Homo sapiens: one gene and its partner. The protein of the gene in region 2 purifies or fractionates together with the protein of the main gene of each other region. This does not show direct contact. Each region holds a gene or a part of one and is shown on either strand. Other genes may lie near its edges.

What was found.
Region 1: the proteins of PLCB2 (region 2) and MAP2K6 purify together in Homo sapiens (affinity purification with western blotting, with the first as the bait; one study listed by BioGRID). This does not show direct contact.

Annotation. Positions count from the first base shown.
Region 1 is NC_000017.11:69,550,446-69,554,427, reverse strand, and holds the end of MAP2K6 (dual specificity mitogen-activated protein kinase kinase 6), read right to left. Parts: 3' UTR 563-3,982; downstream 1-562. UniProt on the Homo sapiens protein: Dual specificity protein kinase which acts as an essential component of the MAP kinase signal transduction pathway.
Region 2 is NC_000015.10:40,301,158-40,304,970, forward strand, and holds part of PLCB2 (1-phosphatidylinositol 4,5-bisphosphate phosphodiesterase beta-2), read right to left. Parts: intron 2,922-3,813; coding exon 2,844-2,921; intron 2,200-2,843; coding exon 2,131-2,199; intron 1,453-2,130; coding exon 1,312-1,452; intron 1,193-1,311; coding exon 1,113-1,192; intron 1,033-1,112; coding exon 979-1,032; intron 876-978; coding exon 800-875; intron 453-799; coding exon of another isoform or gene 435-452; exon of another isoform or gene 1-434. UniProt on the Homo sapiens protein: The production of the second messenger molecules diacylglycerol (DAG) and inositol 1,4,5-trisphosphate (IP3) is mediated by activated phosphatidylinositol-specific phospholipase C enzymes.

The DNA of each region.
Region 1 (3,982 bases), on a different chromosome or scaffold from region 2:
CTAATGAGTCTTCAGGGCGGCTGATATGGTTTGGCTGTGTCCCCACCCAAATTATTTTAGCTCCCATAATTCCCATGTGTTGTGGGAGGGACCCAGTGGGAGATAATTGAATCATGGAGGCAGTTTCCCTCATACTGTTCTCATGAGAGTGAGTAAGTCTCAAGAGATTTGAGGGTCTTATGAGGGGTTACCCTTTTGCTGGGCTCTCTCTCTCCTCTTGTCTACCACCATGTTGAGACATGCCTTTCGTCTTACACTGTGATTGTGAAGCCTCCCCAGCCACGTGGAACTGTGAGTACATTAAACCACTTTCTTTCGTTAATTGCACAGTCTCAGTTATGTTTTTATCAGCAGCATGAAAACAGACTAATACGACTGCAATACTGTTGTGTTGTTAGGTTTTGTTCTAGTCTGTTTGGGAAGTGCGGTGGTAGAAATAGGAAAAGCATAGAGAAAGAATAACAAGAATATATAGTCCAGGAAAGCTTTTACCGGGAGAGCCTTTTATACCATGTTCCTGGAATATAGGGTTTCCAACAACTCAATTAATGTACAGACTCACTACGCTTTTTAAAATGTCTTTTATTGGTTGTACATTTTCTTATGAGATCAACACACCATTTTCTTTCAAGAACACTTTGCTCCTGAATACTTAATGTTACTTGTCCCAGCTATGAAAGCCATAGCAAGCACTTTGACGGAAAAAGGTGGTTGGGTGTTTTTTTTGCCATTATCACTGTCTTCTCTATCGTTAAACTGTTGTTTGAGTCAGTTTGTAGATTGACACAACATTGAACACAACACACACGGTGTGAAGTTTTACACGCATATACACACATCTGGAGACCAGTTACAGTGTCTGCAGCTTGTTCCTTTCTCCTCAGCAGTATGAAACTGAAGAATATCCTGAGATAGGAAGTCAACGTGAAAGTTCCTCATTAAAAGAGGAGGTCAAGCTTGATTTAATCTCCCAATTTCATTTTCTTTTTGAGGTGGTCAGAGGGGACCCAGAACGGTAGCCAGATGAACCGTGGAACAACCACATGGTTTAATATCTCAGCTGTTTCCTTGGTCAAAAACACAGATTCACAGAAATATTTCATGGCACATCAGAAACCTACTTTTTAAAAATATGATCTTGGATTAGAAAGGAGGGAAATGAAAAGGTTGTTTTTTACTAGATGTGATGGGAAATCCCACCACAGAATGACCTACATACTTGTAAGGCAAAATTACCCTCACCTTTGGCAATTATTATACTTCCTTGTCTACTGACTGATAGAAGTCAATCATCCAGTCTTGTCCCCCATCAATGTTATTTGCATGAAAAGATGAATTTCTCAAGAATAGGGACCCAGGACAGGTGGCTTCTCCAAATGTTAAAAAGAAACATAATTTCTTTAAAGCTACATTATCCCTCAATTCAGTATATTTCTGGGAACACTAACAAAACTTAACCTATGTTAACACCAATGCTTATATCTACTGCAAGTCCTGCATACTGGCTATTTCCTTGGCTTTGGGATTTGGAGATAACATCATTAATAATGATAAACAATAGTTCAAATGAAAAAAAAAATGCACACAACCTGGGTGACAGGAAAGCTAGCCTAAAATGAAAATGTTTGGAGCCACCAAAGCCAACAGGCAAAGAAAACAAAGGCATGCTGTCCCACAAAACAGGTATTTTAAATACAATCCTGAGGCCTTATTGAAGTTATCACTTGATGCTCATATATTTCCATATAGAAAAACACAGTTAGATATACACCCCCAACTCCTTCTTTCCTTCTTCAGCTCACAAGCAAAGAGTTCCCAAAGGCCAGAATTTAAATTTAATATTCACCTCAAGAGCATGGAAACATTCCACCCACATGCTTTACAGGTCTTTACTTTATAAACTTCTAATGAGTTTCATGCTCTACAGTTCAGCCTGCCTCATTCACAAAGAGACAATGCGGCAATCCGTAAAGAAGAGATGATTCCAACCAGAAAAAGCTGCACCTGGCAGGAAAGATGGGAGCCTCAATGAGGGAATCCACTGAATAGCATTCATTCTTTTATTTTAAACTCTCCAGAGACACTACTTTGAAGTGCTGGAGGTGGGTTTTGAAAGACAGGGGTGCATAGGACCTCTCCGATATCCTTTCAGAATATTTCAGGTACCAAGAAGAGGTAGCAAGCTCCTAACTAGCTTATGGAACTACCTCATTCTAGCATCAGGGCATTTTCCACTTGCCCAAAGGCTCTCTTTGCAATAAACATGGTTTGAAAATAACTTTAGGGTGCAACAGGCAAACAATCAATCATATATACAAATAACATGTGTCTATCACAAAATTTACAGAAGGTAAGAAAACGTGTTGTTGTGTTTCCTTACAAAGTCCATATTAATAAACGGAAGCAGCATTTTCAGCTATGAAACTGAAGCACAAAGAAAGCTGAAGAAATCCACCTCTTTTATTAAAATTCTTGTAAAGTTCAATTCCATAAAGAAATTCTAGTGTCTCATCAAGATTTTCACAAAATATATAGAAAACTGTTCATGTATTTAAATAATGTGAAACTACATTCCTAACACCTCTTTCAGCTTTAAATGACTCAATTTGATGATTCAGTATCATAGGAAGTATGTCCTAGTTGTGTAAGCAAATTACACAAAAAAATACTTTTCCTCTAAAAATACCTATTATTCTATTAAAACATCATTTCAGTTCATATAGAAAATCAGTCCACTCAGAAAATAAATTTGAGACTAAAGAATAAATCAAACACAGAGGTAATACAGGAGATAAACACAATTTTCTTAATCAAACCTCCTCAAGTGGCTTTTATGCAGATTGGCCAAGAACACTATAAACTGCTGCCCAATGTAAATTTTTGGCACATATAGTTTTCTAAAACAGTTGCTGTGAAACCCCAGCTATTAAATTTGCTCTAGTGGCAAACAGAACACTGTCAGAATTCACCAGACTCTTTATGTGTGTGTACAAGGCACCTGATATGACTCAGCTGGTGTTTAAGCATTCCCTTGTGTGCAGTTCATGACAGATACACCACCATAGCTTCCAACTTCTAAAGGCTGTACCAGGTTTCCATTACCCTTCTCCACCTACAACACCTTTGCAAAAGGCAGCAAGGGGTAGCTCTGTTAGCTTGAGTCTCAGACCGTACCCCTGTCTGTGTCAACATTGTCCAAAGGATTTGCTTTTTTCTGATAGGTCAATGAACAAAAACGGTAACTCCTGCCTCTGCAAACCTAGAGATGCAAAAATTCCACTGCATATGAAGAGCCCAGTCACTCCACGCCTTGTCACTGAGACGGTGAACAAAGATCAGGTCATTCTCAACCACTTTAGGAAAATGTCGCATGTAAGGATCTATAATGCATGGCTGTCATACAACAATTCCTTGCATTTTTCTTTCAAAATGATTTATGCTCAATTAAAATTAAATGACCCTGTCTTCTGGCCACCTATCTCCCTATCTCTGTGAGCATACTCAGTACGGCAAAAGCCAGGGACTCACAGCCGTGGTTGGCTATAAAATTTCCCATATTTGAGACTGTTTAAAGTCCTAAAGTGGTCATTTAATCCAACGTTCCCAAGTTTTTAATGGCCACAGAGACTTCCAGTTAAAAGGAACAATACTAGAAGCCAGATATTCTGACTGGAGGTTGACAGAGGTTCAGATAGGCAGAGTTCACCTTCATCACACTCTTTTTCCCTTCTGTTCACAAGAGACCCTCAGGGGCACCACTGAATATGGTCTGAAAACCACAGCTGTACCTCGCTCTTATCTCCCCAAGTATTGAACATACAACAGGACAAACAACTTGAGATCAGAAAAATAAAATAAAATAAAAAACTACTCCTTCCCCATAATTCATGGCTTCTGAAACTTCAAACTAGCTTTCAGTATTATATTTTAAAATTATAAAATCTAGTTCATCTGGTGAAGACCTGTAGTGTATTTCTAAGTA
Region 2 (3,813 bases):
GGGGTAAATGCTCCTCCTGGGATTCATGTGGGCAGGTGATCAATGGGGGTCGTGGTTTTATTTATTTATAACGTTCCAAATTCTTACCAGGAGAAAATACTCCATGGGGTATAGGCTGGGACCCACACAAGAGCACTGGCCAAGCAGGGACAGGGGCTGAGATTCGCTCCATTGGCCAGGCTTGAAGCCTAGCTCAGGGCCATATCAGCCCAGAGGGCTCCTTTTTGTAATTCACACAAGTTGCTTCATGGGGTGACCCTGCTTACAACTTGTAATTAAAAATTAATTATTTAACTAAAAAGACAGGGAAAAATGCTTTTCTGTACAGAGCAGAAGTCTGCATCTTGGCAGCTTCCGCCTTTGGTTCAGTTCCTCTCCCTCGACACGCTGCAGACTTCCAGATCCCTGCAGACTGCCGCCTGCCACTGCCGACCTTATCTCGCTCCTCCAGGCTGAAAACATTCACGCTCAGCTCCCATTCCCAACACTAGACTGGGAATGCATGCCGTTTCTGCTGCCTGCCCTGAACACAGTCCATCAACCACAGCCCCAGCGCCCCCACCACCCAGGGTAGGGGATACAGACAAACCTGCTTGGAGCTCAGGGTCTCACTCCCTTGCCCTGGCTCCACCCCTGTGCCTAGTGTCAGTAACCAGCAGCTCCAGGGTTGATTGGCTCTCCAGGCTCTTGGCTGGGGCTGTGATGTCACCTCTGCTCCCCCACCCACCATTCCTGGCCAAGTTGCTTTCTGGTGGGGACAAGAATGCTGGGGGATGGGCAGGGGTGCAGATCCACTCACTTTGCCTTTGGGGAGGTGGCAGGCACTGAGAGCAGCTTCCACCCGCTTGCGGTCAGCAGGAAACATCTGGAAAAAGCTGAAGGGGCAGAGAAAGGTACCAGGTACAGAGAGGAGTCAGGCCTGAGAAAGAAAGGCTTTGGGGAGCCCCTGGAAGCCTGGGGAGGGGTTGGGGGGCTCACTTCTTCACCGGAATCTTCCCTTCAGAGTTGAGCTGCATCTTGAGCTTCACAAGGCTGGGGGCAGAAAGCAGCCCGTCAAGGCCCAGGGCTGGCATGCTCAGCACCAGGGCTCAGGCCAGGCAGAGGGCACTTACATCTTGTCCAGGAAGGTGCTGCGGGAGGCGTTGGCCGTCAGCGGATGTTTGACTAGGGCCAGTACGTCCTCAGCCCAGGCCTGCAGGACCACAGAGAGCAGCGGTCAGGCTCCTGAGCACCCCCGCCCAGGCCTGTGTCTCTCAGGAAGTCCAGGCTATCCCAGGGGCCCAGACCCAGGCCCAGTGCTCCCTGGCACACCTTGCCCACGTTCTCCTTGTAGGAGACGAAGTTGTGGAAGGTGAGGTCCACCATGTCCGGGCCGGACACCACCGTGAGTGTCTTCAGCAGGAAACTGTTATCAGGAAAGTCCATGTTGAAGACGTCCCGGAGCTTCTGGCTCTGCAGCACGTGGTGGTATGGTTAGGATGGAGGTGTGCTCCCTCCCTGCCCAGTGTGGCTCTCTCTGGCCCTCCCCTCAGCCACTTGGGCTATGGCCCACTGGGCAGAACCCCATCCCCATCCCAGGAACCACAGGCCTTAGCATCTTCCTGTCCCTGACTCCAGCGGCTGGGATGGGAAGGAGAGGCCCTGAGGAAAAGGTTAGCCAAGATGGCGGGCAGGCGGGGAGGCCGGCCTGGGAGTCCTGTGTGTGTTGGTTGCCACTTTTGTTTGAAGATAGATTCTTAGCTCCCAGTCTCAGGAAACCCCGCTTCCCACCAATCCCTTCCTCCAATTTTCCTACCAGCATTAGGCAAATATAGGCAAACTAGTCCGGGGGTGGGGGTGTAAGCCACCCCTCCCAGACAGACTGGGGTGCTTTAGGGGCAGGAGGTGACCCCTCCTCCCAGATCCCTGCCATCTCAGCTCACTGTGCGCAGTTCTGAAGCTCAGAGCCCAGGCGAGCCCAGGAGCTGCCGCTCCCCTTCCTTGGCTTCCAGCCACGGTCCTTGCTGCCCAGCCAAGGAACCATTCCCCGTGCTTCAGAAGTCAGGCTTCCCACCCGCACAGGGACCCCTGCCCTTGCCCCATGGAGCTAGTAGCTGTGCTTGAGCCTGGGCTGCTACTGGACACACCTACCTTGGGCATCTTGGCAAACTTCCCAAAGCGAGTATCCCGGATGCTGGTGATATCCAGAAACTCCATCTCCTGGGGGCAGGGTGCGGATCCCGGTGGGAGCAAAGAAGGGATGTGGGACAAAAAGTCCAGGTCAAGAATGAGCAATAGGGAGAAGGGAGCTTCCACACCCTTCAAATCTTGGCCAACACCTCTCTCTAGATGCCAGGCTGCCCAGGGCCAGCTGGACCCAAACTTCCCTTCCTATGGCCCAGGTTCTCTCTATTCATGCAGATCCTCCTCCCTTTCCCTCTGTCCATTCCTCCCTGGCAGGGAGCTGGAGCCTGCAGTGTCTCCTCCACCATCCTGGACCCTTCCCAGCTTCCCCTTCCCGTCCTCCTGCCCAGAGGCTGGGGCCTATCTCTCATCTCCCAGAGCCCCAAGTCAACCCACAGCCACAGGCAGAGCATCAGCCTTCAGCAGCAGTGCTTTCGCCTGTCTCTCTCTCTCCCCAAGGGATGCTAAGGATGGAACATTTGGGTAGCCACAGGTTGGAGTGACTGCATCCTCCTTTCCAGAGCAAAGAGCCCCTGCCTACAGGGGAGCCTCTGGAGCCACCCTTCCAGGCCATTCTGTACTCCCCAGCATCCATGCCTCCACCTTGGTGCAGCCAGGGGGCTGTCTGGCCTCAATGATAAGCAGGAGTCCAGGGCCATGGCACACAAGGGTTTTCTCACCTTACTTTGATACGTCCAGTATAAGTAGTAGCCCTTAGGATCCACACGGAGGATAACTGGAGAGGCAACTGTAGTTTCCTGCAGAGAGAAGGAGCCAGCACTCTGTTCCAAGACCTCAGGCCAAGCCTCCCTGGTCCAGGCCAGGGGTTTCAGAGCTCATTATCTTCCCAGGAGGTGCCCATCCCAGAAATCTGAAGGCATTTCCTTTTGTTGTCTAGAGCTAAGCACCAGGAGGGACAGAGGATTGGGGATGCCATTTCTGGAAGAGAAGGGTTTTCCCCTCTAAAGCCCAAATAGACATTCTCCCTCTAGACCCTAAAGAGGATCTTGGCCCCTACCTCATCTCATAGAGCGAGACTCCCTACTGCCACCCAGGAGAGATTGACACAGCGAGAGCCAAGAGCCCAAACTCCTGCACCAGCATCCAAGGCCCTGCACAATCCAGATGCAACCTAACCTCCCATATGCCCCTTCTTCCCTCCATGAACACCTCCTACCCTGTCCATTCAACTGTCCCATAAAGATACCAAGCCTTCCCACCTCCAAACCTAAGTGCCCAAATCTCCTCTGCTTGAAATAACTTCAAGGACAACCCAAGCCCCCCAACTTCTGAAAACCCTTCCTGAAATGTGCTACAGTAACCGGGGGGATGTGAGTCACAGACCTACAAGCCCACCTAGGAAATCCCCAGGGACTCATGGACTCCAGGACAACAAGCCTGTGCTAGACCTTGAGCTTGGTGCTTGGTGCTTGGCACTTGAATGTGGTGTTTGCTGAATGAGCAAATGAATGAATGAATGAATGAATGAACTCACCTTCTAAAGTCCTGTTCCACTCACTGACAGAGCACATAGGCTACCTTTTAGTTTAACGGTCTTTGTATGTGTACATAACAAGATATTAAAATTAAGGTTTCCAGCAAGGCACAATAGTTGCCGTATACTAAAACAGACCAAATGCAGCATTTACA